Homo sapiens: one gene and its partners. The protein of the gene in region 2 purifies or fractionates together with the protein of the main gene of each other region. This does not show direct contact. Each region holds a gene or a part of one and is shown on either strand. Other genes may lie near its edges.

Region 1 (2,677 bases), on a different chromosome or scaffold from region 2:
TGAACCCCCTGGAGCTGCAGGAGGAGCTGACCCCCCAACCCAGCCAGACCCTAAGGATTCCTGTAGCTGCCTCACTGCGGCTGAGGTCCATCCTGCTGGACGCTATGTCCTCTGCCCTTCCACAACCCCTAGCCCCGCTCAGCCTGCTGATAGGGGCTCCCCAGCAGCCCCAGGGCAGGAGGATGGTGCCTGAGACAACCCTCCACCTGGTACTCCCTCTCAGGATCCAAGCTAAGCACTGCCACTGGGGAAAACTCCACCTTCCCACTTTCCCACCCCACGCCTTATCCCCACTTGCAGCCCTGTCTTCCTACCTATCCCACCTCCATCCCAGACAGGTCCCTCCCCTTCTCTGTGCAGTAGCATCACCTTGAAAGCAGTAGCATCACCATCTGTAAAAGGAAGGGGTTGGATTGCAATATCTGAAGCCCTCCCAGGTGTTAACATTCCAAGACTCTAGAGTCCAAGGTTTAAAGAGTCTAGATTCAAAGGTTCTAGGTTTCAAAGATGCTGTGAGTCTTTGGTTCTAAGGACCTGAAATTCCAAAGTCTCTAATTCTATTAAAGTGCTAAGGTTCTAAGGCCTACTTTTTTTTTTTTTTTTTTTTTTTTTTTTTTTGCGATAGAGTCTCACTGTGTCACCCAGGCTGGAGTGCAGTGGTGCAATCTCGCCTCACTGCAACCTTCACCTACCGAGTTCAAGTGATTTTCCTGCCTTGGCCTCCCAAGTAGCTGGGATTACAGGTGTGTGCCACCACACCCGGCTAATTTTTATATTTTTAGTAGAGACAGGGTTTCACCATGTTGGCCAGGCTGGTCTAAAACTCCTGACCTCAAGTGATCTGCCCACCTCAGCCTCCCAAAGTGCTGAGATTACAGGCATGAGCCACTGCACTCAACCTTAAGACCTACTGTTCTAAAGCTCTGACATTATGTGGTTTTAGATTTTCTGGTTCTAACATTTTTGATAAAGCCTCAAGGTTTTAGGTTCTAAAGTTCTAAGATTCTGATTTTAGGAGCTAAGGCTCTATGAGTCTAGATGTTTATTCTTCTAGAGTTCAGAGTCCTTAAAATGTAAGATTATAGATTCTAAAGATTCTATAGTTCTAGACATGGAGGTTCTAAGGCCTAGGATTCTAAAATGTGATGTTCTAAGGCTCTGAGAGTCTAGATTCTCTGGCTGTAAGGCTCTAGATCATAAGGCTTCAAAATGTTATCTTCTCAAGTTCTAAGATTCTAATGATGATCAATTATAGTTTCTGAGGCTTTATGATAATAGATTCTCTTGTATAAGATCCTAGATCCTAAGGGTCGAAAGCTCTAGAATCTGCAATTCAAAAGTTCCAAGAGTCTAAAGATGGAGTTTCTAAGGTCCGGTGTTCTAAGATGTGATATTCTAAGACTTACTCTAAGATCTTAGATTCTCTGTGTCTAAGATTCTAGATCAGATGCTCCAAGATTCTAGATGATTAAATAAGATTCTAACGGTCTGTTCTGTTTCAAGGCACTCTAGATTCCATTGGTCCAAGATTCCGGATCCTAAGCATCTAAGTTATAAGACTCTCACACTCAGTTGTGACTAACTAGACACCAAAGTTCTAATAATTTCTAATGTTGGACACCTTTAGGTTCTTTGCTGCATTCTGCCTCTCTAGGACCATGGTTAAGAGTCCAAGAATCCACATTTCTAAAATCTTATAGTTCTAGGCACTGTAGTTCTAAGACTCAAATGTTCTAAGTTTCTAAGATTCTAAAGGTCCACAGGTCTAGACTATTAGGTGCAATTTCAAGGTTCTAACCCTATACTGTAGTATTCTTTGGGGTGCCCCTCTCCTTCTTAGCTATCATTGCTTCCTCCTCCCCAACTGTGGGGGTGTGCCCCCTTCAAGCCTGTGCAATGCATTAGGGATGCCTCCTTTCCCGCAGGGGATGGACGATCTCCCACCTTTCGGGCCATGTTGCCCCCGTGAGCCAATCCCTCACCTTCTGAGTACAGAGTGTGGACTCTGGTGCCTCCAGAGGGGCTCAGGTCACATAAAACTTTGTATATCAACGAGCTTCTGTCTCCTCTTGTCTCCTTTTAGCTGTGATGTGGCCCCATTCCCTGGCAATTCAGTTCCCCCATCAGAAAAAAGAAGGGCTTGGTAGGGTCTTGGAATTCTGTCCTCACTAGAGAGGGTAGAAATGAACACACAGATAGACAAAAAGACATACAAGCAAAGAGATGCAGGTTCTCAGAAACCCCCAGTGAGGAACTGGCATACAGATCCAGGATCACAGACACACACACACACACACACACCTGTTCCGCCGCAAACTAACAGACACATGAATTAATGGACACACCCAGGAGGACCTGGTCACAAATACAGAGACTGAAACTCAGACGCATAGAGTAACACAGACACACAGAATTACACAGACACAAGCATATTTACAAACATGCTCAGGCAGATACCCGCCACGAATAGGAAGAGACACAGACCTAGAGTCAAGTGACACAAATACTCAAGAGACATGTAGAGTACAACAGGTACTCACAACCCCGAACGTTCAGACTGACATAGAAACACAGGCACAGAACACCTCCGATCATCACGGACCCACAAAGGGCCTCCAGCGAAGACCAGCCCACCGTGTCTGGCACGCACTCGCGAGCGGGCGTTCGCGGGTGTGGC
Region 2 (3,755 bases):
TAGCTGTTTGGTGAATTGAGTAGAAATTGGGAGAAAGAAGAAAGGGAGTTAAGGGGAGGGAAATTAGAAGGGTGAAGTGAGGAGGGAGAGGCAGGAAGGGCAAAGACAGGCGCATGCAGAGCGCACAGAGGCCAGAGGCGGCGGCCTCAGGCTAGGCCCCAGTCTGTTCCCGGACTGGGCGCAAGAGGGCTGGGTTTGCACAGGGAAAGGAGGGGGAGAGGTGCTGGAGTCTCTGTAGGGGGGACCCTCCCCAAGGGGATCTGGGAGGGCATCCCAGAGGGGAGGTGGCCCCCAGGCCTCGATGGACAGCAAAGAGCAGGGCCGGCAGAGGGGGTCCCAGCCAGACTGTGGGCGGTCTGAGGGTGGATCAGGAGCACTGGGGCCCTGGTGGGGGCTCTGGGCAGGCTTGGGACTCAGAGCAGCCACTGACAAGGTGATGAGGTCTGACCAGGGCAGGCCAGGCTGGGTATATGGGAGAGTCCCTTACTTAGTGTCCCAGCGAATGCCAAGAGCACGGGGACTTTCAGGCTAAGAGGAGGCTGTCTGGTCTAAACACTCCCTCACCCCACCCGGATGCCACCCACAGGCATGAACATCTTCCCAGTCTCTAATAGGTGCCAGGCACTGGGCCAGCCACCCTCCCATTCAAGGTCTTCTTCATCTCTCACAGTAACCTTTGGAGCTAGGTAGTAACGGTCCCATTTCACAATCCAGGACACTGAGGCTGGGAGAGGTTCAGCAACTTGGCCAAGGTCACAGTCAGCTGGGGATGGGAGGGGGCGCTGGCATGGGACCCTGGCACTGCCCCCTTAATAGGTGGGAGGGGTATTGCTGGGGAGCGCCCGGGTGTTTACAGCACGCGGCGGATGAGAGGGTCTGCCCAGGGAAGGGGCGCCAGGCAGGAAGGAAGGGGTTACTTTGGCATGCAGAGTAGGCGGTGGGTACCTGTTTGTGAATGAATGCACGGGTGGACGGATGAATGAATGAATGAATGAATGGATGGCTGGAGGGATGGTTGAATGAGTGGGTGCGGAGAGGAGGGTGCTGGGGAGGCGGCGCGTGAGCTAGAACCCCTTTCTCCCCCGCCTCCACGGTGGAGGTTGGCTTTGGGAGCCTCCCTCCCCCAACTCCCCAGAGGGGTCGGCTCCCCCACCCGCCCTTCCCCCAGCCAGTTTAGCCGAGGGCGGGGGAGGGGGGCGCGGAGGCCGCTTCTCCCCGGCTGGGCCAGAATCCCCGCGCGGCGGCGCAGCCTCCCGCGCCGGGTCCCGCCGGCCAGTGCGCAGCGCGGCGCCCCCGTCCTCCTCCCCCTCCCCTCCTCCTCCTCTCCCTCCCCGCTCCGCGCCTGCACGCACGGCCCCCGCCGCCGCCGCCGCGAGGGGAGAGGCGGCCGCACAGCCTGGTTCCCCGCGCCCTGCTCGCCGCCGCCGCTCGCGCGGGCACCGCCGCTGGTCCCCGCCCCGCCGCCGAGCGCACCCGCCCGGGCACACGCACCCCGCCGCTGGACGCACCCCCCGCACTCCTCCCGCGGCTCCGCCGGGCGCCCGAGCCGGGCAGATGCGCCGCCGCGCGCCCCCCGCTCCGGGCCCGCCACCGTGCTCTGCCGCGCGCCGGGGGCTCCTCTCCCGGGCCCCCCTGGGCGCCCTCCGGCTCTGGTTCCCGCCCGCTCCTTGGAATAACCCCTGAGGCTCCAGCCGTCACCGCAAAGTTTCCCGAGGAGACCCGCCTCCCCGGCCGCTGCGCAGGTAGGGCTGGCTGCACCGGGCGGGGGTCGGGGTCCGCGCGTCTGGGACAGGGCGCCAGAGCCGACGGGGCGGGGGCCGGGGGCCCGGGGGCACCGAAGCGCCACGGGGTCAGGCAGCCTGGCTTTGCCCCAGAGCGGCGGGAGATGGGACGCCCAGCCTTTGGGATTTGGGGTGGGGGTCCCTGAGTCAAGAGCCAAGCACCAGTAGCGGTGGCGCTGGCCCCGCCGCGGGGAGGCGCGGGGTGCGCGGCCGGCGGCTCAGCTCTCCCGAGCCGAGGCTGGAAAGGGCGGGGGCTCAGCTGGAGCTCTAGTCCAAGCCCTCGCTGCACCCCCCAGGGAGGGGGCCTGGCCCGTGGGGGGCGTCAGGCCGGTCATGTGGGTCCCAGCTCCCGCACTCGGGAACCGGAGGAGGGCGCGCGGCCAGGGACAGCCGGCCGGCCTGGGCGCCGCGCTCCCGTCCCCACCAGCCGCGTGAGTCACGGTTGGAGCGAGGTTTTATTTTTAAAACGACTTCAAGGGGGGCATGAGCAGCCTCCAACTTCCCTCCCTGTGCGCGCTGTGGACCGTCAGCCCTGAGCCGGGCGGGGGCTGGGGCCGTACACCTGGCGGCTGGAACGGTGAGACCATGGTGCCTGGGCGGGGGGCGGCGGGCACCCCCCATCCCCCAGCTCTCAAGACAAGGAGGCGGCCCGACCCGGCGGCGCACGCCCCTCCTCGCGGGCACTGGAGACCCCGGGGAGGAAGGCTGGGGAGTGTTGTCGCCCAGCTGCAGGGAACCGTGGTTGATCAGAGCTCCCCGAGGAGGAGAAAGTTGTGGAACAGGGACACCAGGGAGCTGCCACAGCCTTCCCGGTGGCCCCGGGAGGTCTTCGAGGCCCTCCAGGGTGGGCAGTTTTGAGAGAATACAGCCCAGCTGGGGTGTGCCAGGCCCCCGAGGCCCAAGCCAGAGCTCTGATGTGAATAAATACAGCCAAGGCTGGGGACGGAGGTGAGGGGTGACTGAGAACAGCCCTGCCTCACCGCGGCCCCTACGCCCTCGGGTTGGATGGAAACCAGCCCCTCCACATCCCCCTCCCCAGGTGGCTCAGGAGTTAGGAAGGAGGCTGTCTGTGGGGGGGACCCACGATGCCACTGTGGAGGGAGGTGGCTGAGGCACCCTGTCTCTGCCCGGCGGCCGCGGGGGAGGCAGCCGCCGCGCTCAGGGGCTCCAGATTCCAGTTTCTGGAGTTGAAAGCTACTGCATCTCTTCCGCCAGCCCCGGGAGGAGAGGCGCAGACATCACCTGTCAGCTGGTGCTGACTCCGTGGGCGACTGTTCAGGGCTTCCTCAGAAGGTTTAAAATGGAAATGGCCTGAGCTGACAGGGCCCGTGCCTGGGAGGGGACGCTGCCTAGCTGGGCCAGCAGTGAGGGGGCCCTGGTAGGTGTGAGGGGCAGGAAGAGCTGAGGGCTGTCACATATCTGGCTGAAGGGTCGGCCATGGGCACAGGGTGTGTGTGTGTGTGCGCACCCAGTCCCATGTTCTTTCCCAGACACAGAGACTGGATACTCTTCAGTAAAAAGCACCCTGACCCCAGCATGGAGGCTCCGTAGCCCACACCCCCAAGGCAGCTGTGGCCTGCTGGACTTCACCTAGACCTGGGTCTGTGCATCCGCACTCTACCATTTATTGGTCCCTCCACCTCCCTGTGCCTCAGTTTCCCTTGTTGGTAAAATGGGATTGATAGTGCCACCTCCTGAGCCTGAGCCAGGGTGCTGCTTTGTAAGTGCATTTGACGCATGTTGTTAGTGGTCCTGCTCCTGGACTGGAGGATTCTCAAGGGCTGAGGGTATCTGCAGGGACTTCAGAGGGTCGGGGGGTCGGATTTTCCCACCACCAGCCAGTGTGCTGTCACTGGACTTCATCCTCACGCTGGCCCTCAGTGGCAGCGCCCTGTGTCCCCTCCTCCCCATCTCCGAGGCCTCCCATGAAAGCCCCTGGGAGGTCCGCCCAGCTGTTTCTAAGGAGGTGATGGG
Region 3 (3,655 bases), on a different chromosome or scaffold from region 2:
AATAGGAGCACAGGTTTTGTAGTACATAAGGCAAATAGATTGTTATACAAATTTATAAGAGCACTTTTTATAGGAGCAATATTCCTGTGAATTATTTTATGTGTTAATATGAAATCTAAAGTCAAGTAAAGAGTTTATTACTAGTTCTCAAGAATAACTGCTTATCGTGATTTATCAAGAATTAAGTGCTAAGTCTCAGGGTGACTTCTCAACAGGTGTTTTCAATGAAGGCCTTGTAGGAAAGAGAGGAGGAGGCTGGGGACTTCTCACTGATGGGAGACTTCCCAGTTTTGTTTGAACATCTGTGTTTTCACATTTTTTGTAGCACTACTACAAATCATTTTAATATGCTCTCATAGAAGGAAATACATTGAGCCAGCAGAATAAGATCTACTAAAATAAATTTTGAAAAGGAATACATTCTTACTCAGTGTTTTACAAATCAATTTCAAACGATTCACATTTGGGTTGACTTTAGAGTCTTTATGCTAGGAAGATAAAATCCTTTTGATAGATGTACATGGCCTTTTCAATAACAGGGAATTAAGCATATGGTAAATACCTAGAGCCAATCCAAATATATAAAAATGATATTGAAGTGTAGAGGACTAACGTATCATAGTGTAAACAATAAACTCAATATTGCAGAGTAAAAAGGTGAAAGGAGACTCCATCTTTAATAGCAACATTACCCGCTGTATGCCTTTATTCCCACTTTGCTCTAGTACAGGAAGATCTTCACTATGGGGACTTATTCAGATAAGTTCCCAAGATCATGATCTTCAAAATTTCATACTCTAGCCTATTAATGATTTCAGTAACAAATACAAAGTGCGTGAACAATTTATTTTGGTATTTATAATTTTGGAGATATTTTGCTATGATTTTTATTCTAAGACAGCTCTTTAATTAGTATATGCATTAGTTTCCATAAACTATATATACATCTCTACTTGTAGGCATTCTGGTATCTTGAGTAGGAAAGGAATGTCCCTTTCTTACTCTGTGCCTTCTGGATTGTTTAGTTCACTCATCCTTTTTCTTAAATATTTTGAAAAGGTAGAATGAGTAATTCCTACTTGAGAGTACACAATAATTACATATTTCTTTTTCTGTTTTATCAGGCATTAAAAGTAGTGTAAAGTAAATAAACTTAATTTAAAATATAATCAGATATTCAATGTTTAGAGTTTTTTTGGAGAAGAGTTTATAACCCCTAAAAGTCCAAAAATTGTTATCATCATTATTATATTGTTACTTTTATTTTTATATGCATTTATGAAAATTTTAGCTCCAATTTTAATGTGGCATTTCTCTATTTCCCAATAAATGAAAACACAGAAAGTATAAAGCTAGAAACCAGAGAATCTTGTTTTTAATATTAACTAATATAACTCTTTGTAATGTATTAACTTCTTGATTCCATTAGCTTTTGGTTTTCGATAAAATTTTCAAAATGCAAGCTAGGTAATATTTTACCATTCTTGTATTGAGATTATAATCCTTCAGTCTTTTGAAAATGTCAGGAGTAAGATAATTTTTAATTTTACTTGAGTTGTGTGAGTTCTATAATTTCAATAAATATTACCATATGTAAGTATATGCCAAAAAATTTGGAATTTTAGTCTTGGCATCTTCATGTTATTTAAGGCTGTGTGTGATCATGAAAAGATCGGCATAGAAAAGTATGCCCTAAAATTGTTACCTCAACTACCTGAATATACTGTTTCAGTCATGAGAAAATTTACATTACCACCTTTGACTATATTGTTCAACATACTAAACACACAAAATCCCCCAATTTTCCAGAATGTTTTCTCCATAAAGTTGATGCTATAACATATATCATTCACTTTTTTCAAGTGCATAGATGCAGATTTTGTATATGAGGTTAAAATAATCCCAAATATCATCTCTCTTCAAAAAACTAAGAAATACACATATTTTAAGAGGAAAAAACCTTCAAAAATTTCAGGTAATATTTAATCCTGTTTAAAAATATAGCATTTATATTTTATCATGTTTCAGGACTATTCTTGGGTTTCAGGTTTCAAGTTTTTCACTGTTAGTGCTGCTTGCTGCTTATGTACTATAACACAATAGAAATGTATCTACAAATATAAAGGGCATACATTAAGAAAAAATATATTTAAGATTAATGAAAATTCACATGCATTTATTGCAGTGAAATTTGGCTATGCCTGTATTTATGAAAATATACAAATAATTTTTTGGTAAATTTAAATATGTGTATAAATGTATATGTCTTTATATTTTCAATATAGTGTATGTAAGTACTTGCTCAAGCACAAATACTAGTCCAATTTTATACATTTTAGTTCAAAAGTATTTCTTCTCTAAGGAACAGCTCAAGCTTTTATTTTTCTTTGAAAATATGTTGAAGCTTTATTTTACTGTTTTAAAGTTTCAAACAATTTGAAGTCCCATAAAATAGAGCTAGTGACCCTAGAGCGGGGGGACTTAACACGTGGCCTTCAGTGGGCAATAGGTTGAAGCCTATGTAGACGAAGAGAAACAAAAATCTCACCCAAGTTCCTGATTCTTTTGAGAAGATGGCAGGAGAGCTGGAAGCATGTGAGAATGTATGCTGTGAGCCTGATGATGAAACAACAACAGGAGGAAGAAGAAGCCACTATAACTGGGCCCATGCCAGTTAGGAAGTAAAACTTAACTCCCTAATGCTGAGAAGTCTTGCAATACACTCAATAGTGGGTAAATTCTTACAAATGCACCCGCTAATTACAATATTAGTCATTGCACTAGAATGTATTCCCCTCAGTGGTACTTCTGTTTAATAAATCCCATAGGGCATTATCTTAAGGTTGTATTTTAGTAAAGCCATTAGGGAGGGATTTTTTGTGTATTAAATTCCTTCAATCAATGACTGTATATTAGTTAGAGAATAGCATAAAGTTCCTTTTGCCTATCATTTTGAAGATAATGTGACTTCTGCAACCCACCTACAAAGCACTTTTAAACTTCGTCAGACCTGCATTAACCTATTGTCAACCTACTTTAGTAAAGGAGGCTTTGACAATAATTTTCTTCAATGACATACAGTATTTTATAGTTAGTCATAAGCTTTCACCACTAGCTTTGACAATGATATACTGCGATCTTTGGTCTTCTGGAATAAGTTATCTACAATAAAGAAGTCCTTAATGACATCAACATCCCTACTGTGACTAAGCAGAAGCATGCTTTTATTTCCTTGCTACTGCAGAAATACTAAGATCAATATATTTAAGGTAAAGCAAAAAAAAAGAAAAAAAACACGCAAAAATCCCATAACAAAATATAGATGAAAAATTGTGGCTCTGTGGGTGGCATCCTTTGCTTGTATGTACCAAGTTCTTCCGGGGATAGACTATAAAATTGGTTTCAGACAGTGTTTGAGAGAAAAAAAAAAAAAAAAAAAAAAAAAAAAAATATATATATATATATATATATATATATATATATATGACATACTTCTATTCATCTGTTCTGGTCCTAGTGACATTCTGATTACTGGTATTTGTAGGCCTTGCCCTGGATCTATTCCAAGCAGTTTTATTGTAGTGAAATGGTTCTTACAGTTCATTGAGCATCTAGCATAACTGTGCTGAATATGATTGGCGCGTTTGCATATATT

The links.
Region 1: the proteins of FLRT1 (region 2) and AXL purify together in Homo sapiens (affinity purification with mass spectrometry; one large-scale study listed by BioGRID and IntAct). This does not show direct contact.
Region 3: the proteins of FLRT1 (region 2) and PCDH17 purify together in Homo sapiens (affinity purification with mass spectrometry; 2 studies listed by BioGRID and IntAct, with this or other methods). This does not show direct contact.

What each region holds. Positions count from the first base shown.
Region 1 is NC_000019.10:41,259,712-41,262,388, forward strand, and holds the end of AXL (tyrosine-protein kinase receptor UFO isoform 1 precursor), read left to right. Parts: coding exon 1-193; 3' UTR 194-2,055; downstream 2,056-2,677. UniProt on the Homo sapiens protein: Receptor tyrosine kinase that transduces signals from the extracellular matrix into the cytoplasm by binding growth factor GAS6 and which is thus regulating many physiological processes including cell survival, cell proliferation, migration and differentiation.
Region 2 is NC_000011.10:64,034,418-64,038,172, forward strand, and holds the start of FLRT1 (leucine-rich repeat transmembrane protein FLRT1), read left to right. Parts: upstream 1-1,513; 5' UTR 1,514-1,742; intron 1,743-2,264; exon of another isoform or gene 2,265-2,358; intron 2,359-3,755.
Region 3 is NC_000013.11:57,638,139-57,641,793, forward strand, and holds part of PCDH17 (protocadherin-17 precursor), read left to right. Parts: intron 1-3,655. UniProt on the Homo sapiens protein: Potential calcium-dependent cell-adhesion protein.